Linked DNA regions of Homo sapiens. The protein of the gene in region 1 interacts with the protein of each later gene in a pairwise test. Each region holds a gene or a part of one and is shown in the gene's direction. Other genes may lie near its edges.

Region 1 (7,504 bases):
ACTGCATCACCTAGGCTGGAGTGCGCTAGTGGCATGATCTTGGCTCACTGCAACCTCCGCCTGTTAGGTTCAAGTAATTCTCATGCCTCAGCCCTCCAGAGTAGCTGGAATTACAAGCACACCACGCCTGGCTAATTTTTGTATTTTTAGTAAATATGGGGTTTTGTAATGTTGGCCAGGCTGGTCTCGAACTCCTGACCTCAAGTGATCCGCCTCCCTCTGTCTTGCAAAGTGCTGGGATTACAGGAGTGAACCACTGTGCCCAGCCTCTACACACTACAGTCTTAGAATAAAGCAAGTTAGAGAAGAGAAAATGTTATTTAAAAAATCACAGCTGGGCATGGTGTCATGTGGCTGTAATCCCAGCTCCCTGGGAGGCTGAGGCAGGAGGATCACCCGAGATCAGGAGGTAGAGGCTGCAGTGAGCCCTGATGGTGCCACTGCACTCCAGTCTGGGCAGCAGAGTGAAACCCTGTCTCCAAAAAGAAGAAAAAAAGAAAAAGAAAAAGAAAATCACAAGGAAGAGAAAATACATTTACAGTTACAGAACGCTACAATATTTATCAATGCCATAAATTTGTTTACAAGATGAATTGTCTGTCTGAAGCAGACAACCGCAGCTGTAGAGCTCCATTTATGTTACGTAGCAAGCAATTCAACTTTTTCTTGTCCTGTCCTGACTTTTCTCTGCTTCTCGGGAGCATTTCCAGCATCACTAGTGGCACTTTACATGGGTCTCAGGATGTTATTCAATGTTTGCGGTATTGCACTAAACACAGTGAAAAATACGCGGGAACCGCCAAGAGATCCCTTTTTACCGGGGCACAAATTCCTGGAGAGGTGAACTGCCCACAGGGAGATAATTAATGTAACATGGCATTTAAAGCGGATACTTGCAACACTTGCACTCACTCCAGTAGCAACAGGAGGTGGCTATGAAATTGTTACAATAACACAATATATTCTATAGTTAATTTTATGCAGTTATGATTGAATGCTGCATCTTTACATTTATTTACATTTCTCTTGACTTGGAATAACACCATGTATGGTTTGTAAGTGTGTGTGTACGTTTTAATACATTTTAACTTTTTGTAACAGATTTGTGTATATTTTATGTTAGCAAATTATAAAATAGGGCTGGACATGGTGGCTTATACCTGTAATCTCGGCACTGTGGGAGGTAGAGGCAGGAGGATCACTTGAGTTCAGGAGTTAGAGACCAGCCTGGGCAACATGGTGAGACCTCGTCTCTATAAAAAGTAAAAAAATTAGCCGGGCGTGTTGGTGCTTGCCAGGAAGATCGCTTGAACCCAGGAGTTGGAGGTTACAGTGAGCCATGATTGGGCCACTGCTCTCCAGCCTGGGCAACAGAGCAAGACCCTGTCTCTAAAAGAAAATAATAACAAAAATAATAAAACAGACTAGTATCTACATATATTTTATGCATTCATGACATACCTAATTTTTTTTTAATATTTCTTGGCTACCAAGTTCATCTGCAAGTCTTTTCAAACTATTGCAAATCTCTAAAAATGTTTCCAATATATTTATTGAAAAACATTCTGTTTAAAGATGACCTCACTTTGGGAGGCTGATCAGATCAGCTGAGGTCAGGAGTTCGATACCAGCCTGGCCAACATGGTAAAATCCCGTCTGTACTAAAAATACAAAAATTAACCGGGTGAGGTGGCGTGTGCCTGTAGTCCCAGATACTTGGGAAGCTGAGGCAGGAGAATAGCTTGAACCCTGGAGGTGGAGATTGCAGTGAGCTGAGATTGCTCCACTGCACTCCAGCCAGGGTGACAGAGCGAGACTCTGCCTCAAAAAAAAAAAAAAAAAAGATGTGCACGGTTCAAACTCATGTTCAAGGGCCCACTGCAGTTCTCACCCATGGCTTCACTTTCTCCTCTTTCTTTTCTGCAGCTACAGTGAATGCCTGGTTCAGTTGCAAGAATGCCTTGCCCACTCTCCTCTGGGCCTTTGCTCATGCCTTCCCCCACCTGAAACACATCCCTATGGCTTCCCTAGGATGGCTCCTCTTCATTTTCAGACTTAAGCTCAAAATCACATCCTCAGTCAGGTGCAGTGGCTCACGCGTCTGTAATCCCAGCAATTAGGGAGACCGAGACAGGCAGATCTCTTGAGGTCAGGAGTTCAAGACCAGCCTGTCCAATATGGTGAAACCCTGCCTCTACTAAAAATACAAAAATTAGGCAGGCGTGGTGGCATGCACCTGTAATCCCAGCTACTCTGGAGGCTGAGGCAGGAGAATTGCTTGAACCTGGGAGGCGGAGGTTGCAGTGAGCCAAGATCGTGCCACTGCACTCCAGCCTGGGCAACAGAGTAAGATCCATCAAAAAACAAACAAACAAAAAACCCCATGTCCTCAGCAAACCCCTCCCTATGCACCTCCCATTTCCCTCAGCTCATTACACACTCAATTATTTTAAGGGCTCTCTCCCTGGCTCAGTTGTGAACTCCATAAGGAAATGGGTCATGTTTATTTTGCTCACTGAAAAATCCCCTATTACTTATTGCTTGTTGATTCTCCCACTCAACAAATATTTATTAAGCAACAGATTTGTCAGGCACTGGGTTTAAGCAGTGAAACAAGACCGAAAAGATTTCCGCCTTCACGGGAAGGGGAGAAGACACAGAAAACGAATAAGAATTTCAAGGCCAATCATGGTGGCGCATGCCTGTAATCCTAGCACCTTGGGAGGCCAAGGCAGGAGGATTGCTTGAGGCCAGGAGTTCAAGGCTGCAGTAAGCTAGGATTGCACCACTGCATTCCTGCCTGGGTGACAGCAAGATTCTGTCAAAAGGAAAAAAAAAGAAAGAAAAGAAAAAAAAAAAACAAACAATTGCAGGTAGTGGGGTAAACATGCTATGAAAATGAGAGAGAAGGGGCCAGGCGCAGTGGCTCAGGCCTGTAATCCCAGCACTTTGGGAGGCCAAGGCCGGTGGATCACCTGAGGTCAGGAGTTTGAGACCGGCCAGGCCAACATGGTGAAATCCTGTCTCTACTAAAAATACAGAAAATTAGCTGGGTGTGCTGGCGCATGCCTGTAATCCAAGTTACTTGGGAGGTTGAGGCAGGAGAATCACTTGAACCCAGGCAGGTGATGTTGCAGTGAACTGAGATCTGGCCATTGCACTCCAGCCTGGGCAACAGAGAAAAACTCCATCTAAAAAAAAAAAAAAAAAAAAAAAAAAAAAAAAAAAAAAAAAAACAGAGAGAGAGAGAGAGAGAAGGAAACGGAACTGGGGGGAGGATTTGCAAAAATATGGTTAGGGATGGCACTTCAGAGATGAAGCCATCCTGGAGTGTTACGGGCAAGGGAAATGCTGGGGCAAAGGCCCAGAGGCAGGAATAGGTTTGGCCTGTTGCATGAACAGTGGGTCCAGCTCCTAGCAAACTGTTTATTGAATGAAAGAAGAATGAATGCCTTGGGTCTAGGGTTGTGCTGGGCGCTTTCTTAAGTTTTCTTTCCCGGGTACCTCCCCAGAACTGGCATGCAGGTATTATTAAACCCATTACACAAGTGAAACTGGCCCAGAGACAGAAAAGTCCCTGGTCCAAGACCACACAGGAGTGAGGGGTGGAGGAACCCTCCTCCCATTGAGTTCTGGCTTTCCTATACTGAAAGCCCCTTCCTCTCCTGCAGTAAGGTAGGTGGAACCGCTGTCCCGCCTTGTTGGTGAATGTCGTTGCTAGACTTCAGACACATACAGGCTGGTCTGCTGAAAATCAGAGATGTCCACCTGCGCCCTATTCGAGGTCTCCGGCGTCTTCTTTGGCGTCGTCTTTGCCCTTTCAGAAGCGTCTGCACATTTTTCCAGGTGTCATTTCTCCAACTTGAACACAGGGAGCGCACTGGGCACGCGGGCACGTGGCTGTCCCCAGGGGCCTGGCTTGGGTCTCGCCCCTGGGCCGGGGCGCACTCGCGGGCGGGACATCTGGGGGCGCCCACGCGCTCTGGGACGAGTGTCGCTGGCCAGGCCCGGACTGAGGAAAGGCGAGTGAGACACTACTCGCCTGGGGTGCAAAATTTAAGGGAGTGAAAAAAAAAAAAAAAGAAAGAAACCAAAACCACCTCGAGTCACCAAAATAAACATTTTAATGCAGTATTTTTTAAAAAATCAACAGGAATCCTCCAAAGCCCACTATGAACAAAATAGCAAAATGGTAGAGAAAGGATCTGTGCCGCTGCGTCGGGCCTGTGGGGCGCCTCCGGGGGTCTGAAACTGGAGGAGACTCGGGGCTGTAGGGCGCGCGGATCTGGGGCGCGCCCTCGGTCCCGGCGCGCCCAGGGCCTCCCGCGCGGGGCCCGGCACAGGGAGGCGGGGAGGCGGGCGGGGCGGGGCGGGGCCGGGCGGCACCTCCCTCCCCTGCAAGCTTTCCCTCCCTCTCCTGGGCCTCTCCCGGGCGCAGAGTCCCTTCCTAGGCCAGATCCGCGCCGCCTTTTCCCGCGGCCCGCACGGGGCCCAGCTGACGGGCCGCGTTGTTTACGGGCCCGAGCAGCCCTCTCTCCCGCCGCCCGCCCGCCACCCGCCAGCCCAGGTGCCCGCCCGCCAGTCAGCTAGTCCGTCGGTCCGCGCGTCCCTCTGTCCCGGAGCCCGCAGATCGCGACCCAGAGCGCGCGGGGCCGAGAGCCGAGAGACAGTCCCGGGCGCAGCGCGGAGCTCCGGGCCCCGAGATCCTGGGACGGGGCCCGGGCCGCAGCGGCCGGGGGGTCGGGGCCACCACCGCAAGGGCCTCCGCTCAGTATTTGTAGCTGGCGAAGCCGCGCGCGCCCTTCCCGGGGCTGCCTCTGGGCCCTCCCCGGCAGGGGGGCTGCGGCCCGCGGGTCGCGGGCGTGGAAGAGAAGGACGCGCGGCCCCCAGCGCCTCTTGGGTGGCCGCCTCGGAGCATGACCCCCGCGGGCCAGCGCCGCGCGCTCTGATCCGAGGAGACCCCGCGCTCCCGCAGCCATGGCCACCGGGGGCCGGCGGGGGGCGGCGGCCGCGCCGCTGCTGGTGGCGGTGGCCGCGCTGCTACTGGGCGCCGCGGGCCACCTGTACCCCGGAGAGGGTGAGTCTGGGGGCGCGGGCGTGGGCGGGGAGCGCCGCGATGGGGAGAGGACCCCACCCAAGCCAAAATCGAGCCCCCGCTTGTGGACTGAGAACCCTCCCCAGGGGCGGGGGGCGGTGGCCAGGACGGTAGCTCCTGCATCGCGTAGGGGGAGCGGGAAGCCTCTGACCTTGGCCTTTGCCCGCCCGGGCTCGCGCCTCCGCGCCCTGCGTGCCCGACCTGAGCCCGAGGAACCTTGCCCCGGTGCCCGCCCCGCCGCGGGCTCCTCTCTGGAGCGCGCCTCCGACCCGTGCCCCGGCCCCTCCGAGCCCAAGTCGCTCCGGAGACACGACACGCGTCATCTTTGGGTCGCGGCCGGGAAGTGGGGTCACTGGGTCTGGACAGCCCCGAACAGCCAAGTCCCCCGAGCGCATATGGTGTAGGTAGAGCCAAGCGCCCTGAGTGCCTCACCGGTGGGTGACGCTGCCTGGGGTCAGGGACTGCAGAGCCCCCCTCTACCCAACTACCTTGGATCTAGGCCCGTGGCCACCCCGGACTCTAGGTCCATGTTTACCCTTTTGGGTTCTGTTTCCAGATGTCCGGAGGCAAATTCTAAAGCCTTAGCAACAGCAGCAATTGTAGCAGAAGTAGTGGCGGTTTTTTACCCTATTTATTGTAATTGGTATCACCGCACGCCACAGCCTAGTCTATCTTATCTCTCTGGACTGTCACAGTGGCCCCCGGAGGCAGATACAGTTATGCACCCATTTCACAGAGGAGTAAACTGAGGCTCATGTAGGACGCATAACTCCCTTGCCCTAAAGTCAGTGCCAGAGCCAGGACTTGAGCCTCTGTGTGTCCCGTTCTGCCCAAGAATCTGGACTACTGTCCCTTGTCTGCTGTCTCCTTGACCCCTCCTCTCCCCTCAGCCCTGCGCTTCATGAAGGAGCCTTTGACCTTGAGTGAGCCTTTCGTTCCCCCTGACCCCATGGGCCCCTCTCCCACGTGTGGGCAGCATCTTCCTTGGGCTTGACAATAGGCACCTTTGGGGTTGTAAGATGAAGATGGCGCAATCATTTAAGGAATATAGCCTGGGTTTCCCACTGTGGGGTCTGAGGCCCTGCTTTAAAAATATCTGTTGGGTTACTGTTTCAGATTTCTCCATAAAAGGAAATCAGTCGTGATGAGGAAGGGGTCAGGGAGGGAAGGAATTGAAGCTCTTAAATGTATTGATGGGGAAACGGGTGCATGTAAAATCAGGTGCTAGAGTGGACCAACCGGGTTTGCTGAGTCGACTCTGTCAATCACATAATGTCTAAAAGCCCCGGGCCCACCCCCCCCCAGCCCCGCCCCCAGGTGCCTGGGAGACAGTAGGTGCTCAATGAAGGGTGGCGGTTAGTTGGAGTTCTTGTTAAGAAAATCTGGCCAGCTGCGGTGGCTCAAGCCTGTAATCTCAGCATTTTGGGAGGCTGAGGCGGGCGGATCACGAGGTCAGGAGATGGAGACCATCCTGGCCAACATGGTGAAACTCCCTTCTCTGCTCAAAATACAAAAATTACCTGGGTTTGGTGGCGTTCGCCTGTAGTCCCAGCTACTTGGGAGGCTGAGGCGGGACAATTGCTTGAACCCGGGAGGAGGAGGTTGCTGTGAGCTCAGATGGCACCACTGCACTCCAGCCTGGCCAAAGAGCGAGACTTTGTCTCAAAAAAATAAAAAAAAAGGCGGGGCGTGGTGGCTCACGCTTGTAATCCCAGCACTTTGGGAGGCCGAGGCGGGTGGATCACCAGTTCAGGAGATCACGACCATCCTGGCTAACACGGTAAAACCCTGTCTCTACTGAAAAATAGAAAAAATTAGCCGGGCGTGGTGGCGGGCGCCTGTAGTCCCAGCTATTCCGGAGGCTGAGGCAGGAGAATGGCGTAAACCCGGGAGGCGGAGCTTGCAGTGAGCCAAGATCGTGCCACTGGGCGACAGAGCGAGACTCTGTCTCAAAAATAAATAAATAAATAAAAAGAAAATCCAAGATGAGTGGTTTCGAACTATGCCAGATTCTATGTGTGCGTGTGTGTGGTTCCCTGTTCTTCTGTTCCTTGTAGCTTTGGTAATTAATTGTGGATCTGTGCCTGGGCTTTCAGGGTCAGTAAATGGATTTACCATTTCTTTGCACATTTATGGCTTCCATATGGGCAGGGGTTTATGGTTTGTTGTTGTTCACCGTTGCATTTCTAGAGCCCAGAACGATGCCTGGCACATAGTAGGTGTTCAGTAAATATTTGTTCTGCAGTGGGGCACAAGTGGTGGAGTTCCTGGGTGTACTGGGCTCCTTTATCATCTTAAGGAGTTCCTTATTCTCTGCATAATACCTTCCTAAGAATTAGAAGAGCAAGCTCTCAGCAGGTGCTGTTCTATGCGCTTTGCATATATAATCTCAGTTAATCCTCACGGCAA
Region 2 (8,278 bases), on another chromosome or scaffold:
GCAAGAGTGAGACCGTGTCTCAAACAGACGAGACGGGATGGGACGGGACGAGACGAGACACAATATAAAGACAATGAAGACAGAATGGAAGACATACCTGGTGGTAGTACAGCCCCTGGCTTCTCTCCCCTAAAACATTGGCGACTGTGCCCTATCCATCCTTGATTATGTAAACCCAACTTCTCTATTTTGCTTGAACTAGTTCAAGTTCAGTTTATATTACCTGCCACTGAGAGGATCTTAATAGATCCTATTTTTACAAATGAGAAAGCAGAGTCTGGAGGAAGTGTGATTCACCCAAGGTCACACAAAGCTGGCCTGCCCATCTAGTTCCACTACATCCCACCATTGGAAGTTTAGCAGAGGCAGAAATGCCCAGGTCTCTGCTCTGCTTTTGTCTTTGTGACCTTCAAGAGGATCTGGCACCATCTCTTAAGGATCTCCAACTGTTTTTGATGTTAGAATCCTGTGGGCCCATCCAGACTTGACCCTGGAACATGGAGAGAAGTCAACAGAGTCAAGAAGGGGCAGAAGCTCAACCCTGGGCTTCCTGCTCTGTTTGAAAAAATGAGTATGTTATTGGTGTCCATCTTTTTCATGTGTCTCTTCCTAGCACCCAACACAGTAGCTGTCCCAAGCAGGCCCTAAGGACAGGTTTAATGAGTTCATCAATTAGGGTCTATGGGAACAGTAGGTGACAGCACTCAGGCTTTTGAGTAAGCCTGAGTCAAACTCTTACCTGTCCATAAGCAAAAAGTGGGAGAAGAGCCTCAGTTCTCATCTGGAAAATGGGGATAATCCCCAAAGGAAAAAACTGACAAGATGCTGTTAATGCTGATTCAAACTCTAGGACCCAAGACCTTAGTTTTTTGGGGGTTTTATTTATTTATTTTTGCTTGTTTGTTTTTTTGTTTTTGTTTTTTTTTTTGAGACGGAGTCTTGCTCTGTTGCCCAGGCTGGAGTACTATCACAGCTCACTGCAACCTTCACCACCCGGTTCAAGCAATGCTCATGTCTCAGCCTCTCATGTAGCTGGTATTACAGGCACCCACCACCATGCCCAGATCAGTTTTGTATTTTTAGTAGAGACGGGGCTTCGCCACATTGACTAGGCTGATTTCAAACTCCTAACCTCAAGTGACCGTCCTGCCTCCCACAAAGTGCTGGGATTACAGGCATGAGCCACCGCGCCCAGCCTAGAACCCAAGACTTTGTATGGGAGAAAATAAGAATCCATTCATGGGTTCCCTAGAGAGATAATGTGCTTTCAGGAAAAACAAAAACAAAAACAAAACCAAGAGACATGGAGTCTTTCTAGCCTCCTTAGCCTAGGAACAGGTGTGACACCTTGGGCAAGTCAGTAACCCTGAGTGTGAATTGCCTCCTCTGTAAAACGGGGCCTGCCTTAGAGCACCTTGGGGACTTCCTATCACCTTTATGATCCCCCAGGATATAGAGAGAATGAAATGAATATGGGTCAAGCCACTAACACCCTCTAATGCAAAAGCTTGTGGCTACTTTACCTGCACCTCATGGAGTCGTTGTGCTATGAGCTTGTCATAAAAACCCACCCAAGATAAACTGCTCTTTTTATATGAGTAAAAAATTTTTCACTGCTGCTTCACTGGAATCATTAAGCTGGAGCGGGGAGGGAAAGGTGACACAGGTTACAGATGGCTGAGGCCAGGGCCAGAGCAGATTTGACAGGGTCCTGGGGGAGTGGCTGAGGCTTCCCCGGGTATCTTAGGACAAGTGCAGCTCTGTTACAATTTTCAGAGAAGCAAGGGAGTAACCACAGTTTCTTCTTGTGGAAAGATATGCTAAAGGGGTGTTTCATGGACACCCAGAAGAAAAGCAATTCTGTGTTTGTAAAAGGGCCCCAGTGCAGTCCACAAGAGAAGGGTTATCAGGAACTCAGAACCATCTTCCAAAGCAGTCTTTTGTTTTTTTGAGATGGAGTTTCATTCTGTCTCCCAGGCTGGAATGCAGTGGCACAATCTCGGCTCACTGCAACCTCCACCTCCCGGGTTCAAGCGATTCTCCTGCCTCAGCCTCCCGAGCAGCTAGGATTACAGGCATGCGCCACCACACCTGGCTAATTTTTGTATTTTTAGTAGAGACGGGGTTTCACCATGTTGGCCAGGCTAGTCTCGAACTCCTGACCTCAAGAGATATGCCTGCCTTGGGCTCCCAAAGTGGTAGGATTACATGCGTGAGAGCCACCATGCCCACCCAGCCAAAAGCAGTCATCTTGATGATCCTTCTTAAGGATGAAATGGGAGAGAGGGGTCTTAGAGGGGAGGAGTAAAAGTTGTAGAGTAGGGTTCGAAGGATGAATTTGAGAGGTGTTTAGCTTGGGGAGCACTTGCTCTAGACCCTGTGCCTAAAGGGGATCTGGGAGGCGGGGGCTTGGGGGAGTATAGATCAGAGCAGGGAGAAATAAAAGTAAGAGTTTGGACAGATGTTAGGCTGGTTAATAGGGGAATTCCAGAAGAAGGTTTGGGGAAAATTTAGAATAGGGAGGTGTGGGGTGGACAGGGGTTTTAGGAGACTCTGAAAGGTGAGGTGAAACATGGGGTGGGGTGGGGTAGAATGGAGCTAGGTACTCCAGGTGAAAATATAACAATCTGGTCAAAATGAGGAAATGCTGAAGAGTGGATATACTTCTAAGCACTGCATTTTCACTTTTTGATAATTTGGTTACACCATGAAGTAGTCTTACAAATAAATACCTTTAAATGGTTTTGCCCATTTAAAAATAATTCTTCAGGATCAGGCACAGTGGCTGAGGCCTATAATCCCAGCACTTTGGGAGGCCAAGGTGGGCAGATCACTTGAGGTCAGGAGTTCGAGACCAGCCTGGCCAACATGGTGAAACCCCATCTCTACTAAAAATACAAAAATTAGCCGGGTGTAGTGGTGAGCACCTGTAATCCCAGCTAATCAGGAGGCTAAGGCAGGAGAATCACTGGAACCCAGGAGGCAGAGGTTGCAGTGAGCCAAGACTGTGCCACTGCACTCGGGCCTGGGCCACAGAGCTAGACTCTGTCTCAAAAAAAAAATTGTTCATATTTTCTTTCTAAAATGCGGAAACAAAATCTACAGTATGGAAGCAATTGAATAAATTTTGGTATGTCATAAAATAAAATACATGTAATTGTGTATGAAACATAGACGGGTGGTATATTAGATGGGAGAAAAAAGCAGGTTACTAAAAAGTGAACTTTTGTGATGTATCTTTTTTAAGTATAAGCATGTTGTAACATATATATATATATATATATATATATATATGAATGGATTCTGATCAAAATACACCAAAATGTTAACAGTGATTGTCCCTAGCCACTTATGCTGCTGGCCTGTCTTGTCTTCTTTTTATTTCTTCGAGACGGGGTCTCACTCTGTCCCCCAGGTTGGAGAGTAGTGGCACAATCTCAGCTCACTGCAACCTCCACATCCCAGGCTCAAGTGATCCTCCCACCTCAGCCTCCTGAGTAACTGGGACCACAGGTGAGCCACCAAGCCCGGCTAATTTTTTGTATTTTTGGTAGAGATGGGGTTTCACCCTGTTGCCCAGGCTGGTCTCGAACTCCTGAGCTCAGGTGATCCAACTGCCTCAGCGTTTCAAAGTGAAGTGGTGGGAATACAAGCGTGAGCCACCATGCCTGTCCTCATTTTTCTATAAGTGTACACTACTTTTATAATTGGGTCAAAAAAGACAACTGTAGAAGGATAAAAAATATTGAAGGACTAGTTTTTCTAATGCATTTTCAGCCTATTTGGAACTGGAGTGTTGTGAATGTTTTCATATTTACAAACTAGTATGAACAATCCAACTTCTCAATCTCTCATTTACATTTTTCTGACCTCTATGCATAGCCTAGGTGTGAGGTGATGGAAAAAGCTGGTTTAGAGATCAAGATGCTCAAACACAAAAGTCCCCCAAATCCTGAGAGTTTTTTGTTTTTTTAAAAAAATCCTTAAAACATTTAAAGACGCATAAAACTCTTCACCCACTCAGTGGTGCAAAAAATTTACCAATACTAGAAGGGGAGGAGGCTGGCAACGACTGGAAATATTCCCTTTCAAGTAATAAATAATGGTTATTTTGAACCAAATTGCTTTCCACCTCAAGTCCTCCATGGATGGGAGCCTGGAGGATGCAGTGATGGGGGTTATGGAATGGAAAGGAGCGTGGGTAATTGGGTTTGTGAGGATTGGGGCCAGGCAGAGGGAACTGGGGGCTTTTCCAGGACCACTGGGGAACACAGAGGCTGAGAAGGGGAGTGTGGGATGGGTTCGAGCTGGGGAGGACCTCGGCCTCGCCAGGCTCTAAGGAGAGTCACAGCTCACCACCTAGGGCGCTGGGACCACACGATGTCATGCCTGGGAGACTGAAGGGCTAGGACAGATTCTGAGAAAATGTGGACTGGAGATGGGGATTCCAGGTTCTCCCGGGAGTCCAGGCGAGGGAGTTCCGGCTTCAGGGAGTCCCAAGAGCTAGACTGGGAAGGGGCTGGTGCCCAGGACTATGAGAAATCCAGACTCCCCTGGGGTGTGAAAAAGGGCCGAGGTCCGGCTGAGGGAGAGCGAGTCTGAAAGAGTTCGGGCTCCCTTGCGGGTCCGAGAGTCTAACGAAGGCTCTGGGCACCCAGGCCGCACCTGAAGAGCACCAACGACTGCTCGGTCCGCGGCGCGGGAAGGAGATGTGCGGCTGAACCCCTACGCCGATTACTTAGCGGCGGCCCTATCGAGAGGGTGGTTCGAGCCCGAGGTGGCGCCGGTCCCGTAAATCGTGGAGGATCTCAGGTCCCCTGTGACCAAGGGCGTAGTCAGCTGTGTCATGGCGGCTTCCCTGTTCGAGAAACAGTTGGAAACTGGAGGCCGGTTGGGAGTCATGGTCGTTGGGCGCACGGAGGCCGGTTGGAAGCCATGGTCGTTGGGCGCCAGGAGGCCGGTTGAGAGCCGTGCTCGTTGGACGCGCGCAGACCTGGAGTTAGTCCCTGGGCGGAACCTGGAGCCCCGCGCGGCGCGTTGCCTGGGAGACGCATAAGGGGGCGGGGCCGGGGAGGGAGTGTCGCACATGCGCACAGAGCCCGGGCGGCTACGGAAGCGGTGAGACTGTCTCTCGGCTGCAGCCCTGGTGCGACCCGGCCCGTTGCCGTAGAGATGGGCAGGGCTGGATGGAGTGGGGTGCGGTGAGCTGAGCTGACCCTGCTTCGCCACGGGGACTGCAGTGACCCCGGCTTGCCGGCAGGGCGGGTAACAGGTTGAGCCAGGGTGGGGCTGCTCAGGGGCGTGGAGCCGAGGCCAGGATTTCTCTGAAGACCCGGCACAGGCTATTCCTTTCTGCGACGAGCCCATTGCTATGGAAACCAAAGCGTTAGGCCAGCGGGGATTGAGGCTGCGGGATCATGACGGGTCTCTCTCCCGAAGAACCTTGCCTAAGGCTTCCCCAAGCGGCTACTTCCTGAGCGAACCCGCCCACCCGCCTGAAGGAGAGAGGTAAAACCCTGGGGGTCCTGACACTAAGCAGGCGAAGAAGCCTATTCCAATGCCAGCTCCCCTAGGAAACCTACCCGGCCCACCCCTAGAAGTGATGCTTCGCTCTCGTTAACTCTTGGACTTTGTTCCATGTTTATAACTTAGTATTTCACGAACGCCCCGCGGTGTTTGTTCATTTTTCCCACACATAATGGACCATAAAGGTCGGCTTCTTTGCTTTATGACTCGTTCTGAACAAGTCCTTTTCCGCGCTGTGTCTCACTTTCCTCTTTTGTAAAATGGAAATATTAACTCTAGACGCCGGTCTGATTAGGTTGCTTTGAAGATCGAACCAGATGAGGGAAGCCAAATACTTCATAGGCTGTAAAGTGGTGAAGCTGAACTGCTACCGAGTTGCTATTTTTTTCTCCTCCTCCCTCTCAAGCTAAACGTTCTTTAGATCTTTTGTGATTTCTTCAGGTGGTCTTTGCGACTCCCTAGGCTCCGACCTGGAAGAAATCTTTTTTACACTTCCCTTTCACAGAGCCCTGCATTTTAACTTCCCTATCAGAAGCGAGAAAAATAGTTATCATTTTGAGAGGGCTTACTCTATGCCAAGCCCTGAGAAAACTCTTTACGTGGATTATCTCGTTTAATTTCACAACATCCTTTTAAGGTAGGTACTGTTATCCTATTTTCAAGCTCTGTCTGCCTGTAATTGCCTGTTTACTATCTGTTTCTCCCACTAGTCTTTGAGCTCCCTGAGAAAAGGGGCCATGCCTGTCTTGTACATTTCAGTATCTCCAACACCTAATACAGTGCCTGATAGAGATTGCTTTTTTTTTTTTTTTTTTTTTTTTTGAGATGGAGTCTCACGCTGTCTCCCAGGCTGGAGTGCAGTGGCACGATCTTGGCTCACTGCAGCCTCCGCCTCCCGGGTTCAAGCAATTCTCCCGTCTCAGCCTCCTGAGTAGCTGGGACTACAGGCCCATGCCACCACGCCTGGCTAATTTTTGTATTTTTAGTAGAGACGGGGGTTTCACCATGTTGGTCAGGCTGGTCTTGAACTCCTGACCTCAGGTGATCTGCCCGCCTCGGCCTTCCAAAGTGCTGGGATTATAGGCTTAAGCCACCGTGCCCAGCCCTGATAGATATTTCTTAACTAGCATGAAAATGACTCCTCGCATCACTACCCTCACCTGCAAGAGCATTGTCACTTCTGCAGACTTTTAGTGGCTATAATGAACAGCACATTCCTCTATTCCCGTTACCCACTGGGCACTGGTTTGGGGGGACATCAGTTCACTTCTCTATGGATTTTCTGATGACGAGGATCCAGAACATTCCTTAGCATTTAGACTTCCATCTGGGTTCAGGAGGCTTTTTCTTTGCCCTTCATATCACCTCTGTAGCAAGCCAGCCCTCTCTGTCCTTCCGGGAATGAGCCTGATGCATTTGAGTCTGGGGCATTGGCAGGTAGGATTTGCCTATACAACCTTTGGTCTTTCTCTTTAGTAGCCTCAGAACCACCCCCATCCCCACCCAGCCCCTCCCTGGAATTCTGGAGACACGCTGCCAGAGAACTCATTCTTTCCAGAAAACCTCTCAGAAGGCAGAGTCATAGCTGTTGGGAGTCATTTCTTCATTCAACAAATATTTATCAAGCACCTACTTGTGGGGACACAGCGCTTGGCACTAGTTGGTGATAGAGTGGGAGTGAAGACAGACACCATCATATCCCTAAAGGGCTCACAGTCTCTTGGGGAGACAGACATTAATCAAATAATCAGACAGATCGGAGCAAAACTACGTCTTCAGTAAGTGTTAGGAAGGAGAGAACATAGGGCTAAGAAAGCCTGGAGCAGAGTTGGTCAAACGTGAGGGAGGGGTGTGATCTAAGGAGATTTCCCTTAAAACAGTTACCTTTAAGTTGATATCTTAAGGCTCCTCAGACTTCTGCAGTCCTCTGCTGAATGGACCAGATCAGGATCTGATGGGTTCATAAGGAAAGAGACTGAGAGATCAGCAGGGGCAAAGGCCACTGGCTGGAGAGGACAGGTTGTCCCTAAGGAACTGTAAGTGGCTCGGTTCACCTGAGGCCCTTCAGAGCATGGAGAAGCCTAATAAGAGGCTGGAGAGACAGGCAGGAGCCAGGTCACAAATGGCCTTGACAGCCAAACTAAGTGGCTCCATCTTATCCTCACAGTGGATAGCCACTGAAATATATTAAGCAGGGAAACAAAACTTTGGCTCCTCATTTCTCGTGCCTGGTGAAGACTGCCACTTGGCCTTGAAAGGTGTGATCTAAATCCAAATGTCCCTATTTCAGCGGAATGTATAAAGATGTCCTGGTTTTTGCAGCTTTGTTTAAGACTGAGAAAGTGAGGGTCCGAGAGTCTAATGAATGCTCTGGGCACCCAGGCCGCACCTGAGGAGCACCGACGACTGCACGGTCTGCGGCGCGGGAAGCAGATCTGCGGCTGAACCTCTACCCCAATTACTTAGCGGCGACTGAGCCTATCGAGCAGGTGAAGGGAAGGGGTCTGCCTCTCCCTGGGGTGTGTTTCACAGCTCTGCTGCAGGCAGCATGATGCAGGTGTGGCAGGTCTTCCTAAGGCCCTGCTGTCTCTGTGCTTGTCCCTGGGGTTGCTGTGGTGCCCATTATGCTGGCTTCCAGGAAGCTTTCAGCCACTCCCTTTCCCAGGCCTTCTTCAGAGGCAAGGTGCAGGAGCATGTCTAACAATTTAGGACTTTGTATTTGACATCAGCTTCGCATGGGCATATCCTGTCT
Region 3 (7,283 bases), on another chromosome or scaffold:
TTTAAAGAAACACAATTAAGGTCCTGGGCGCCTCCCAGGCCCTGATCCACAAAGTGATTGTAATCCCTCCTCCACCGCCCTCCGGACCATCTGCTCTGCAAACTCTTTCCCCAGCCGCTGTGAAGGTGAACCTCACTTAGTGGAATTTTCGAGCTGGCAGGGTCCCAGACACCTCATGTCACAAATCGGGAGAGAAACCTTCCCACCCTCTGAGGGTCTGCACGGGATCCCAGGAGGAGCCCAGCCCCTCAAGGATAGTGGGCAGGGATCATGGGCCCTCAGTGGGGACTGTCCACTCAGTGGTATCCGGGCCAAGAGAGAGCCTTCCCCTGGGCTTTCTGAAGTTTCAGTGGAAAATCAATTTGCAAATGGCAGATAAATGAGAGAAAAGGCATACAAATTTATTTATTTATTTTTATTTTATTATTTTATTTTTTAGAGGTAAGGTCTTGCTCTGTCACCCAGGCTGGAGTACAGTGGTGCAATCAAGCTCACTGCAGCCTCGACCTCCTGGGCTCGACTGATCTGCCTGCCTCAGCCTCCCAAGTAACTGGGACTGTAGGCACATGCCACGATGACTGGCTTAATTTTTTTTTTTTTTTGAGATGGAGTCTCGCTCCATCATCCAGGCTGGAATGTAATGGCACAATCTCAGCTCACTGCAACCTCCACCTCGCAGGTTCAAGCAATTCTCCTGCCTCAGCCTCCCAAGTAGCTGAGATTATAGGCACCTGCCAACAAGCCCAGCTAATTTTTATATTTTTAGCAGAGACGGGGTTTCCCCATGGTGGTCAGGCTCGTCTCGAACTCTTGACCTCAGGTGATCTGACAACCTCATCATCCCAAAGTGCTGGGATTACAGGCGTGAGCCACTGCAACTGGCCTTTTTTTTTTTTTTTTTTTTTTTAGAGACGGGATCGGGATCGTGCTATGTTGTCCAGGCTGGTCTTGAATTCCTGGGTTCAAGAGACCCGCCTGCCTCGGCCTCCCAAAGCACTGGGATTACAGGCATGAGCCACAGTGCTTAGCTGCACAAGGCAGATTAATAGGAGAAAAAGCATGTAAATTTATTTAACGTGTATACATAGGAGCCTTCAGAATGAAGACTCAAAGATACAGGGGAGGGCTGGGCGTGGTGGTGCACGCCTGTAATCCCAGCACTTTGGGAGGCTGAGGCAGGCACATCACCTGAGGTCAGGAGTTCGAGACCAGCCTGGCCAACATGGGGAAACCCCATCTCTACTAAAAATGCAAAAATTAGCTGGAGGTGGAGGCGGGCCCGCTGTGATCCCAGCTACTCAGGAGGCTGAGACAGGAGAATTGCTTGAACCTGGGAGGCGGAGGTTGCAGTGAGCTGAGATTGCACCACTGAACTCCACTGGGTGACAGAGTGAGACTCAGTCTCAAAAAAAAAAAAAAAATCCCAGGCATGGTGGCTCATGCCTGTAATCCCAGTACTTTGGGAGGCCGAGGCAGGCGGATCACGAGGTCAGGAGTTTGAGACCAGCTTGGCCAACATGGTGAAACCTCATCTCTACTAAAAATACAAAAATTAGCTGGGCCTGGTGGTGGCATGCACCTGTAATCCCAGCTACTTGGGAGGCTGAGGCAGGAGAATCACTTGAACCTGGGAGGCAGAGGTTGCAGTGAGCCGAGATCACACCACTGCACTCCAGCCTGGGCAACAGAGGGAGACTCTGTCTCAAAAAAAGGATACAGGGAAATGGTCCATTTTTATGCTTAGGTTCAGCAAAGTATGGACAGCAGTGTAGAAAGAGGATTGGATACAAAGGGTAGGATCTAAAGGGAATAGACTGAGCAGGGGACCCAGCCAGGCCTGTCTGTCCAGATTCTTCTTGGCCTCTCTGAGTAGCATTCCTTCCTTCTGGGTGTGGGACAGAACCCTATCTTGAATGGGGGTCTTATGACCTACAGTCAAACCAGGCAGATTGGGTAATTTCTTTCTTTCTTTTTTTCTTTCTTTCTTGCTTTCCTTTCCTTCTTCCGTTTCTTTCTTTCCTTTTGTTTTTACTTTTTTTTTCTGCTCCGTTGCCCAAGCAGGAGGGCAGTGGGGCATGATCACAGCTCACTGCAGCCTCCAACTCCTGGACTCCATTGACCCTCCTGCCTCACCACCACGCCCAGCTAATTTTCTTTTATTAAGATGAGATTCTCAGGGCCGGGCGCGGTGGCTCATGCCTGTAATCCCAACACTTTGGAAGGCCAAGGTGGGCGGATCACCTGAGGTTGGGAGTTTGAGATCAGCCTGGCCAACATGGAGAAACCCCATCTCTACTAAAAATACAAAATCAGCCGGGCGTGGTGGTACATGCCTGTAATATCAGCTACTCGGGAGGCTGAGGCAGGAGAATTGCTTGAACCCCCGGGAGGCAGAGGTTGCAGTGAGCCAGGATTGCGTCATTGCACTCCAGCCTGGGCAACAAGAGCAAAACTCTGTCTAAAAAAAAAAAAAAAAAAAAAGACGTGTTCTTGCGGCCAGGTGCAGTGGCTCACGCCTGTAATCCCCACACTCTGGGAGGCCAAGGCGGGCAGATCACCAGTTTGAGACCAGCGTGGCCAACATGGTGAAACCCCATCTCTGCAAAAAATACAAAAAAAAAAAAAAAATTAGCTGGGCATGGTGGCGCATGCTTGTGATCCCAGCTACTCAGGAGGCTGAGGCAGGGGAATCACTTGAACCCGGGAGGCAGAAGTTGCGGTGAGCTGAGATCGTGCCACTGCACTCCAGCCTGGGTGACAGAGCAAGACTCCCATCTCAAAACAAACAAACAAACAAAAAAGATGGGGGTCTCGCTATGTTGCCCGAGCTGATCTCAAACTCCTGACCTCAAGTGATCCTCCCACCTCAGCCTCCCAGAATGCTAGGATTACAAACATGAGCCACTGTGCCTGGCTGGATAATTTCTTTATGACAAGTTTTTACATAGAATATTTTTAGGTTGGCCGGGCGCAGTGGCTCACGCCTGTAATCCCAGCATTTTTGGAGGACGAGGCAGGCAGATCACGAGGTCAGTTTGAGACCAGCCTGGCCAACACAGTGAAACCTCATCTCTACTAAAAATACAAAAAAATTAGCCGGGCATGGTGGCAGATGCCTGTAATCCCAGCTACTCAGGAGGCTGAGGCAGGAGAATCGCTTGAACCCAGGAGGCAGAGGCAAAGTGAGCCGAGATCGCGCCACTGCACTCCAGCCCTGGCAACAGAGTGAGACTCCGTCTCAAAAAAAAAAAAAGAATATTTTTAGGTTTTATGACTACGTTTTGGGAAAAGGGGTTCTGGTTTCTGTGACCCACCTTGGGAAAAAGGGACTTTTGTTTCTCTGGTGCCTCTGGGGAGAAGAGGACTGAGAGACAAGTAGGCAGGAGAAGGTCAGAGAAAAACTTTTTTGTTCGAGGCTGCTGCTGAGGACTTTGTTTTGCGGTATTGTTTTCTGAGCCCCAACAGTGGCCTGGTCAATCACACGGTGGCCACAGAGCCAGTGTAGGGTGGGACAGAGGGACATGGAGGCAGAGGGAGGTGACCAGAGCCAGGAGGCCTAGATGCTGGGCCATGGGACTGCCAGCCACTGCCTGGCCACATAAGTAGCCTGTGGTCCGAGTCCAAGTCCCACGGCAGGACATGGTTTCCATTTCTTGTCTCCACAGTGACAGTGAGGAAGACACCGAGCTCTCCTGTACCCGAGGAGGCTGTCTGGCCAGCCGCGTGGCCTCCTGCAGCTGTGAGCTCCTGACTGATGGTAGGTAGGGGGACAGGGTTGAAGGAGGGGCACACTCAGGGTGGACAGATAAAGATACGTGCATCTTACCTGCCACTTCCCCAGCAGTCGACCTGCCCCGCCCCCCAGAGACGACAGCCGTGGGTGCAGTGGTGACAGCCCCCCACAGCCGAGGTCGAGATGCCGTCAGAGAATCCCTGATCCACGTCCCGCTAGAGACCTTTCTGCAGACCCTGGAATCCCCGGGCGGCAGCGGCAGTGACAGCAATAACACAGGTGCCAGTGGGGACAGCCTGCTCTTCCCATCCCACCTCTCCTGGACCCCCACCCCCAGCCATGGCCACCCATGGGCTCCCTAAACCTTGCTAAGCCTCAGAAGCTGTGACATCTCATCCTCCTGGGTCCTTCACACGTCTCCGAAGTACTTCTGGCTTTTGTAGACTGGTCTAGGAACCTGGCCCCTCCCACTGGACCCAGTTTCAATAGAAAATGTTCACAGGGGCCGGGTGCGGTGGCTCACGCCTGTAATCCCAACACTTTGGGAAGCCAAGGCGGGCGGATCACCTGAGGTCAGGAGTTTGAGACCAGCCTGGCTAACATGGCAAAACCCCGTCACTACTAAAAATATAAAAATTAGCTGGGTGTGGTGGTGCACACATGTACTCACAGCTACTCGGGAGGCTGAGGCAGGAAAATCACTTGAACCCGGGAGGCGGAGGTTGCAGTGAGCCAAGATCACGCCACTGCACTCCAGCCTGGGCGACAGAGTGAGACTATGTCTCAAAAAAAAAAGAAAGAAAAGAAAATGCTCACAGGGGCTGGGTGCAGTGTCTCACACCTGTAATCCCAGCCAGTGTTTTTTGAGGCTGAGGATCACTTGAAGCCAGGAGTTTGAGACTAGCCTGGACAACATAGCAAGACGCTATCTGTACAAAATTTTTGAGACAAGAGTCTCACTTTGTTGCCCACGCTGGAGTGCAGTGGCGGATCACAACTCACTGCAACCTCCACCCCCAAGTCCAAGCAATTCTCACGTCTCAGCCTCCCGAGTAGCTGAGATTACTGGTGCCCGCCACCTCGCCTGGCTCATTTTTGTATTTTTGGTAGAGATGGGGTTTTGCCATGTTGGCCAGGCTGATCTTGAACTCCTGCCCTAAGTGCTGGAATTATAGGTGTGAGCCACCACGCCTGGCCACAAACATTTTTGTGCCTGTAGTCCCAGCTACTTGGGAGGCCGAGGTGGGAGGATCACTTGAGCCCAGGAGGTCAAGCCTACAGTGAACTGTGATCACACCATTGCACTCCAGCCTGAGCAACAGAGAGAGACCCTGTGAAAAGAAAAAAAAAAAAAAAAAAGAAAAGAAAAGAAGAAAGGAGGGAGGGAGGGAGGGAGGGAAGGAAGGAGCTCACAGAAAAGGGTCCATAGGGTTGGAATCAGGGATTGGGAACAGGCGACTGGATTTGTTCCTAAGTTTGCTGATGACTTACAGAGTAACTCCAGGATAGTCCTTCACAGCTCTGTGCCTCAGTTTACCTCATAGACTTCACCAGTGGGTTGGGTCAGCTCCCTGCCCAACTCTAAAATTATTCCAGCTGGGCACAGTGGCTCATACCTGTAATCTCAGCACTTCAAGCAGCCAAGGCAGGAGGATCGTTTGAGCCCAGGACTTCCAGACTAGTCTGGGCAACAAGACTCTGTCTCTACAAAAAATAAACAAAAATTAGCCAGGCATTGTGGCACAGGCTTATAGTCCTAGCTACCCAGGAGGCTGAGGTGGGAGGATTGCTTGAGCCCAGGAGGCCAAGGCTGCAGTGAGCTATGATTGTGCCACTAGACTTCAGCCTGGGTGACAGAGCAAGACCCTATCTCAAAAAATAAATAAATAAATAAAATTATTTGGCTGGGCGCAGTGGCTCACACCTGTAATCCCAGCACTTTGGGAGGCCAAGACGGGCGGATTGCCTGAGCTCAGGAGTTAAGACCGGCCTGAGCAACATGGTGAAACCCTGTCTCTACTAAAAATACAAAAATTAGCCTGGTATAGTGGTGCATGACTGTAATCCCAGATACTTGGGAGGCTGAGGCAGGAGAATCACTAGAACCTGCAAGACGGAGGTTGCAGTGAGTCGAGATCACGCCACTGCATTCCAGCCTGGGCAACAGAGCAAGACTCTGTCTCAAACAAAAAAATATTCAGGCCAGGTGCAGTGGCTCACACCTGTAATCCCAGCACTTTGGGAGGCCAAGGCAGGAGGATCACTTGAGCCTAGGAGTTTGAGACCAGCCTGGGGAACACAGCAAGACTCCATCTCTAAAAAATAAAAAATAAGGCTGGGCGCAATGGCTTACACCTATAATCGCAGCACTTTGGGAGGCCGAGGTGGGTGGATCATCTGAGGTCAGGAGTTTGAGACCAGCCTGACCAACACAGTGAAACCCCATCTCTACTAAAAATACAAAAATTAGTTGGGTGTGGTGGTGGGCGCCTGTAATCCCAGCTACTCGGGAGGCTGAGGCAGGAGAATCGCTTGAACCCGGAAGGCAGAGGTTACAGTCAGCCACCGGGATTGCAGCATTGCACTCCAGCCTGGGCGACAAGAGCGAAACTTCGTCTCAAAAAAAAAATAAAAACTAAAAACCAACCAACTTTTTAAACATTATTCCAACAGCATTTTGCATGTAAAAAAACCAACAAGACGTCACCTCTCTTCTCACATTTATTTATTTGTCCCCCTTTCTCCTTCCCCCCATGTTCCTCACACTGTCATCCCCACCTCAGGGGAACAGGGTGCAGAGACGGATCCCGAGGCTGAACCCGAGCTGGAGCTATCCGACTACCCATGGTTCCACGGGACACTGTCCCGGGTCAAGGCTGCTCAACTGGTTCTGGCAGGGGGGCCCCGGAACCACGGCCTCTTCGTGATCCGCCAAAGTGAGACTCGGCCTGGGGAGTACGTGCTGACCTTCAACTTCCAGGGCAAGGCCAAGGCAAGTGTGTGGGGGGCGCCATGGGGGTGCAGTGGCCAGCCCTGAGGGAGAGGGGTCATGGTGACCCCGGTCCTGAGGCTGTGCCCTGGAAGCAGCTGCAGGCGAACAGGTGTGGCATGACTTCCCACGGGCCCCACTCACCCCAGCCATGCTCCGTGAGCCACCTGCGTCCCTCCTACACATCACTGAGGGACTGCAGTCAGCCCTATTTCAGCCTCTGCATTCTCCAGAAGGGGAGGCCACCTACTGGCGGCTGAGCCCTCAGGAGGCTGGGCCCTTCTAATAACCCAAATTTGCAAATCCTTTCAGCTCCTGCGCGCGGGGGATCTCATAGCACTGGAGCTTCGGAGGGTCTCCACCCAGAGATCGCCCAGTGGGGGGTGGGAGCCAACCAAGGCCCTCAGAGCCCCACCTTCTGCCCCACCGACCTCAGACAGCCCCTCTTCCCTGCCCAGGTTAGGTCACCAACCCCTGAGGAACACACACGGGCAAACCCTAGAGACCCAGCAGGGGAGGAGGAGCTGGGCTGGGTGGGAGAGCTGTGCAGGGTCTAGGGGG
Region 4 (7,283 bases), on another chromosome or scaffold:
TGCCAGCCAGACTTTAGAGAGCTAGTTGGTATCCCCGCTCTGAAATTTGAAACTTTTTGAGCACCAGTATGTCACTCGAAGGAAATCCTCACTGGAGTATTTCGGATTTCGGATTTTTGGATTAGGGATGCTCAATTATAAGTATAATGCAAATAGGCAAAACAAACAAATCCAAACTCTGAAATATTTCTGGTCCCTGGCATTTTAAATAAGGGATATTCAATCCGTATAGATATTCTACATAGTCAAACTTTAATGGACTTACTCAGTTGCAGTTAAAATAGGTAGATCTCATTTTAATAAATATAGCAATGTTCTTGCCACTTCTAAAAGATTCAATGCTACTAATTCTCTTTGAGTTACAACGTGGAACATATCATAGATGTCTTTCCCCAATACTTTGCCTATTCAGAAGTCAGTATACTTAAATTGTGTTTGATATATCCATAATTTAATTTGATGTTCTTAGGAATTTAACCGGTTTTAAAAGGTCATTGATTTTGAAACTGGAAGATTTTTTTGACAGTTGAGACATGGCTAAGAGTAAACCTGGTCATCTTGATGATTTTTGCTTAGTTGGAAAGATAGGGAGTTAGTAAAAATAAGTACTAGGGAAAGGATAGGGCAGGTAACTATAGACATAGCCGTAATTTATTTTGTAAAAGACAGATGTAAACAAGGTTATTGTCCATATAATTTGCTATTCACCAAGTACTAGTCTTCCAGATGGTTTTAGATAATTTACATTTTTGAAATTCCCACTGTACTTTATAAATATACATACAGTATTTATCACATTAAATTAAAGTATTTGTTTAAAGGTCTATCTCCTCAATGGGAGGCTGAGGCAGGCGGATTACATGAGGCCAGGAGTTCGAGACCAGCCTGGCCAACATGGCAAAACCCCGTCTCTACTAAAAATACAAAAATTAGCTGGTTATGGTGGTACACACCTGTAATCCCAGCTACTCGCGAGGCTGAGGCGCGAGAATTGCTTGAATCTGGGAGGTAGAAGTTGCAGTGAGCCAACATGGCACCACTGTACTCCAGCCTGGTTGACGGAGTGAGACTTTGTCTCAAAATGAAACAAAAACACGCACAAAAAAAGGTCTAGTTCTTCAAAACTTCTTTTCTTGAAATGTCACCATGGTCTTATTAGACAGGAAAAGCCTCTGTGGCAGTTTATTTCCCACCCTAGGTAACCATAATATAGCCCATATTTCTTTTCATACCATTATCTAAAAACAACAACAAAAAATAATAATGGAGATAAACCTAAATGGATAAACTCCTTTTTAAACACTCATTTACTGTTATTATTTTGTGGGAGAGGAGTGGGGTCTTGCTCTGTTACCCAGGCTGGAGTACAGTGGCGCGCTCTCATAGCTCACTGTAACCTCAAACTCCTGGGCTCAAGCTGTCTTCCCACCTTAGTCTCCCAAGTAGCCAGGACTACGGGCACACACCACCATGCCTGGCTTAATTCTCAAAGTTTTTGTAGAGATGGAGTCTGGCTATGCTGGCCACATTTACTTAAGTATATCTTTTTATTAAATTCAAATACAGTTTAAATAAAAGGGACAAATTTAGGGCCTTTGTAATTAGTAAACGGTTTGTTTTTGTAAAGTTTTTCTACTGTTTTTAAATGTGAGGTAAGGTCATAATTTGCTTCATATTAGGTTGGTGCAAAAGTAATTGCAGATCTGCCTCTGAAAAGTACAAAATCTATTCGCTGTTACGTTAGGGCTCTATTTTGATAGTTTATTTTTATTTAGTAGTAGTCTATTGGGCCTTCAAAACTTGTTTAAGCATATTTATACATAATTATGTGCATCGTCTTGTGCTTTCTCACATTCATAAAGTAGATAGGAAAACTCCATAGGCATCAAGTGTAAACGAAGGACTTAATGTTGAATTTGTTGTGGAAATTGGCACAAATCTCAATATAGAACATTGGTTAATTATTAATCTTACCAAATGCTTATCTCACTTTCCCTAACTCAAGTTATACTCAAGAAATACAAAGATAATTGAATTCTAATCTATGCTGACATAAAACTTGCTGCAGAAATTAACACTTAAAACTTGCAAATTATATTGTCTTAGCCCAGGCTGCTCAAACAAAATACCATAGACAGGGTGGCTTAAACAACAGACGATTATTTGAGTTCTGGAGGCTGGCAAGTCCACAGTCATGGTCCGGCTCTGGTGAGGACCCTCTTGCTGGCTCGCAGATCCCTCCCTTCTTGCTGTATCCTCACACGGCCAAGAGAACGAGTTCTTGCCTCTTCTTACAAGGGTACAATCCTGTCATGGAGGTTTCTACCCTCATGACCTCAATCTAAAACTGATTATCTTCCAGAGACTCCACCATCACATCTTGGGGGTAAGGATTTCAACATAAGAATTTGAGGTGATGCAAACATTTAGTTCATAACACATATAAATTATTTTTTTTTACTTTGCTCATGAATTATTAGTGCTACTGTTTTGTACTATTTAAAATGCAGAAAATGGGAATTAAATATATAGGATTTAAAACAATGTGTCAAGAAATTCAAGGTTATCTGATTCTCATGCCATCGTGACTTGTTAGTTCATTTATTGAACAGGTAATTATTGAACAACTTAACTAGTTATACATACTTGATACTTAAGTGAATTGTATTATACATTTTACACATACTATGTATCAGTGAACAAATAAAAATCTTTTCTGTCATGGAACTTAATGCTCTAGGTAATAAAATAACATCTATAAACTCACTTAAACTTATCACTAGCAAATGAAAACTTATTATCTGGTAATTTCTAGAATTGTCATGTTAAATTGCTTTAAGTATGGAGCCAAAAGCACTACAGGTTGAGTATCCCTAATCTGAAAAATCTGAAATGCTCCAAAGTGAAACTTTTTGAGTGTCAGCATGACAGCACAAGTGAATTCCACACCTGACCCCATGTAATGGGTCACTGTCAAAATTTTGTTTCATGCACCAAATGACTGTATGAAATTACGTTCAGAGTATATATGGTGTGTGTGAAACATAAATGAATTTTGTGTTTAAACTTGGATACCATCCCCAAGACATCTGAGTATGTATATGCAAATATTTCAAAATCTGAAATCTGAAACACTTCTGGTCCTACCTTGGGACCAGCATTTTAGATAAGGGATACTCAACCTGTATTGAATATAATAAGATGTCATTGAAGTTGCCATTTTTAACTTCAGGAAAATTTTTAAATGGTAAAAGGTTAATTAGATTCTGTGAAGTATGTAAATTAATTCTGACTCTTAAAGTATACTGGGAGAGGCAAGGAGTTGTCTAGAGATTTGGGTTCCAGTACTGCTGTTAACTAGGTCGGTGATGTCCAAGTATTTGGTAATGTAACTGTTTTATGTCTTAGTGGTTCTCTCTAAACAATAAAGATTGCAGTCAATATATATTAACTACCATTTATTAAACACTTGCTGTGTGTCCCAGGTGCTATGCCAAACATCTTACATAAAGGTTCCATCAAGCTCTAAAATTGTAGGTATGAAATATCCCTGTTAACCTTTTGAGGACATTAATGTATTAATCTTGAATCATTGAAATATCTTGCTGCCCACTTCAGGTATATTATAAAATTAGCTTTAATTCCCTGGACTTAAGCAGAGATGTGGGTTCTGTGTATTTTCAAACATCTGTGTTATATAGTAAGATGATGTTTGATATTTTAAAATATTTATCTTCCCTGTCCTCCCCCTGCTTTTTTTTTTATACAGCTACCTGTACTACAGAAACATGGAATAACCCATATAATATGCATACGACAAAATATTGAAGCAAACTTTATTAAACCAAACTTTCAGCAGTTATTTAGGTAAGAATTATTGCTATGATTTGTAAAACACTTAATGAAGTTTCATTTCAGGTTTTGTACCATCAGTTGTTTCTGTACATATCTAGTTTGTAAAAATGGGTCATATAGTACATAGTTTTTTAAAATAAATTTTACTTAAAATACTTAAATAAATTATGCCCATAATGCAGAATTCTAAAGGTTCAAAAGAGTGTATATTGTCAAGAAGTTTCTGGGAAAGTAAAAATAAAAAAGAATTTAAAAATAATGTATACTGAAAAATAGGTTTTAGTGTACATTATTTTATCTCTTGAGGGATAAAGGAATTGAGTATCTAGGGGATAGGTTTAGGGAAACAGCATCTACTGTTACCTCTTTATTGGGTAGTTTTTGAGTGTTAGGTTAAATTTATGAGCATAGTCTTATAGATAAATTTTTTTTTACATTGGCTTTCTTTTTTACTTTATATTTTTTGGAGATTGGTTTATATCGGTATGTATATCAAACTGCTTATTCTTTTTAAGTTGCATTGTAATCCATTGTATGGCTATACTAAAATTTATTCAATTAGTCTGTTAGATATTTAGATTGTTTCTGGCCTTGTACTAATATGTATAGCATATAGTGACTATCATTGTACATATTACTCAATTTATATGTGAGCATATTGATAGGGCTTATTTGCAGAATTGCTGGATATAAGAGTATGAACATTTTAAATTTTGATAGATGTTGCAGATTGTTTTCCAGTGCGTTGTATCAGTGTACATTCCCATTATCAAGTATGTGAGAGTGACTCTTCCCTTAGTATCTCTCCAAGACGGAATTGTGAAACATTTTTAATTTCTCAAAGTCTAATGGAGTAAAAATGGTATCTCATTTGATGTTCTTATTTATCTTGTAAGTTCAGTTGAGCATGTAATGGTTTTTAATGTTCTTTATTTTAACTTCATTTTTAAAATAGAGTATATTACGCATGGTACAAAAGTGAAAGGATATGTAAACATATATAATGAAAGTAACTCTACTTTTTCTCTTAACCCAAGCCACCTTGCTCCTATCCTGGGAGGCAGCTTCTTCCTTCAATATCTATGTAAAAGTATATATGTTAAAAATATTTTAGGCCAGCACGGTGGCTCACGCCTGTAATCCCAGCATTTTGGGAGGCCGAGGTGGGCAGATCACCTGAGGTCAGGAGTTCGAGACCAGCCTGGCCAACATGGCAAAACCCCATCTCTACTAAAACAAAAATTACCTGAGCGTGGTGGCACATGCCTGTAATCCCAGCAGCTCAGGAGACTGAGGCAGGAGAATTGCTTGAACCCAGAAGGCAGAGGTTACAGTGAGCCGAGATCACACCACTGCACTCCAGCCTGGGCAACAGAGCAAGACACCGTCTCAAAAACAAAACAAAACAAAACAAAAAAAAAACAGCGCTGTGGCTTACACCTATAATCCCAGTACTTTGGGAGGCTGAGGAGGGTGGATCACGAGGTCGAGATTGAGACTGTCCTGGCCAACACAGTGAGACCCCGTCTCTACTAAAAATACAAAAATTATCTGGGCGTGGTGGCACATGCCTGTAGTCCCAGCTACTCAGGAGGCTGAGGCAGGAGAATCACTTGAACCTGGGAGGCAGAGGTTTCAGTGAGCCAAGATTGCCCCACTGCACTCCAGCCTGGCGACAGAGCAAGACTCTGTCTCAAAAATAAAAAAAAAAATTTAATGCTCTGCTTTATTTTTACAATGAAACCAATCTATAAATATCTGTAAATACAAGATACATACTCTAAAATACATTGTGTGAACATATAATAGAATACTATGTAACCATGAAAAAGAATGAAATATATGTATGTGTTTGGATTTGGGATGATCTCCAAGATAATGCATTACATGAATAAAGCAGGGTGTGGAACAATGTATATATTTGCAATGTGTTGAGTAAATATATATATACTACATTCCATATATTTATTCTTAATATATGCATAGAAAATTTCTGGACCAAGAGGCTAGAAACTTCATAGTGATTGCTTCTAAGAAGGAAAATTCAGGGCCTGTGATGGTAGAGGGACGTATTTTTCTTTCGTTTTTAATTTTGTTTTTTTTTGTTGTTGTTGTTTTTTTTTTTTTTTTGAGATGGAGTCTCACTCTGTCACCCAGGCTGGAGTGCAGTGGTGTGATCTTGGCTCACTGCAACCTCTGCCTCCTGGGTTCAAGCGATTCTCCTGCCTCAGCCTCCTGAGTAGCTGGGATTACAGGCATGTGCCACCACACCCAGCTAATTTTTTTTTTTTTTTTTTTTTTGGACAGAGTTTCGCTCTGTTGCCCAGGCTGGAGTGCAGTGGCATGATCTCGGCTCACTGCATCCTCCGCCTCCCAGGTTTAAGCAATTCTCTGCGTCAGCCTTCTAAGTAGCTGAGATTACAGGTGCCCACCACCACTCCCAGATAATTTTTTTTGTATTTTTAGTAGAGACGGGGTTTCAGCATCTTGGCCAGGCTGATCTTGAACTCCTGACCTCTTGATCCACCTGCCTCAGCCTCCCAAAGCACTGGGATTACAGGTGTGAGCCACCGCACCTGGCCTAATTTTTGTATTTTTAGTACAGACGGGGTTTCACCATGTTGGCCAGGCTGGTCTCGAACTCCTGACCTCGTGATCTGCCCACCTCGGCCTCCCAAAGCACTGGGATTTACAGGCGTAAGCCACTACGCTCAGCCGAGGGACATATTTTTCATGGTACCCTTGATATCCATGGGGGATTGCCTCCAGGAACCCCCATGAATAACAAAATCCTCAGATGCTCAAGTCCCTTATATAAACTGGTGTAATATTTGCATATAACCTGTGCACATTCTCTCATATACATTAAATCATCTCTAGATTACTTCTAATACTTAGTACAGTGTAAGTGCTGTGTGAATAGTATTGGATTTTATTTTTATTATTTTTAGTGTTGTATTTTACCTTATTTTTTGTTAATGTTTTTTATTGTTGTCGGTTGAATCCACAGGTATGAAATTCTTGGATATGGAGGGCTGACTCTTTACTTTTGTAGTGTTTTTTTTTTACACCATATTTAGTTTATTAAAACTAGTTATTAAAAAGGAATATCCCAAAACACTGATTTTTTTTTTTTTTTTTTTTTTTTTTTGAGACAGAGTCTCGCTCTGTCATCCAGGCTAGAATGCAGGGCTCACTGCAACCTCTGCCTCCCAAGTTCAGGCAATTCTTCTGCCTCAGCCTCCTGAGTAGCAGAGATTACAGGCATGTGCCACCACGCCTGGCTAATTTTTGTATTTTTAGTAGAGACGGGGTTTCACCATGTTGGTCAGGCTGGTCTCAAACTCCTGACCTCGTGATCCGCCTGCCTTGGCCTCCCACAGTGCTGGGATTACAGGCGTGAGCCACTGCGCCCGGCCTGAATTTTT

The links.
Region 2: the proteins of INSR (region 1) and DUSP18 interact in a two-hybrid assay, tested with the Homo sapiens proteins (one study listed by BioGRID and IntAct).
Region 3: the proteins of INSR (region 1) and SH2B2 interact in a two-hybrid assay, tested with the Homo sapiens proteins (one study listed by BioGRID).
Region 4: the proteins of INSR (region 1) and STYX interact in a two-hybrid assay, tested with the Homo sapiens proteins (one study listed by BioGRID and IntAct).

Annotation. Positions count from the first base shown.
Region 1 is NC_000019.10:7,291,365-7,298,868, reverse strand, and holds the start of INSR (insulin receptor isoform Long preproprotein), read left to right. Parts: upstream 1-4,454; 5' UTR 4,455-4,977; coding exon 4,978-5,077; intron 5,078-7,504. UniProt on the Homo sapiens protein: Receptor tyrosine kinase which mediates the pleiotropic actions of insulin.
Region 2 is NC_000022.11:30,664,692-30,672,969, reverse strand, and holds the start of DUSP18 (dual specificity protein phosphatase 18), read left to right. Parts: upstream 1-5,094; 5' UTR 5,095-5,508; intron 5,509-6,031; exon of another isoform or gene 6,032-6,163; intron 6,164-7,410; exon of another isoform or gene 7,411-7,412; coding exon of another isoform or gene 7,413-7,477; intron 7,478-7,848; exon of another isoform or gene 7,849-8,015; intron 8,016-8,278. UniProt on the Homo sapiens protein: Can dephosphorylate single and diphosphorylated synthetic MAPK peptides, with preference for the phosphotyrosine and diphosphorylated forms over phosphothreonine. In vitro, dephosphorylates p-nitrophenyl phosphate (pNPP).
Region 3 is NC_000007.14:102,310,671-102,317,953, forward strand, and holds part of SH2B2 (SH2B adapter protein 2), read left to right. Parts: intron 1-3,665; coding exon 3,666-3,757; intron 3,758-3,841; coding exon 3,842-4,012; intron 4,013-6,516; coding exon 6,517-6,725; intron 6,726-7,283. UniProt on the Homo sapiens protein: Adapter protein for several members of the tyrosine kinase receptor family. Involved in multiple signaling pathways. May be involved in coupling from immunoreceptor to Ras signaling. Acts as a negative regulator of cytokine signaling in collaboration with CBL.
Region 4 is NC_000014.9:52,746,914-52,754,196, forward strand, and holds part of STYX (serine/threonine/tyrosine-interacting protein), read left to right. Parts: intron 1-3,769; coding exon 3,770-3,867; intron 3,868-7,283. UniProt on the Homo sapiens protein: Catalytically inactive phosphatase. Acts as a nuclear anchor for MAPK1/MAPK3 (ERK1/ERK2). Modulates cell-fate decisions and cell migration by spatiotemporal regulation of MAPK1/MAPK3 (ERK1/ERK2).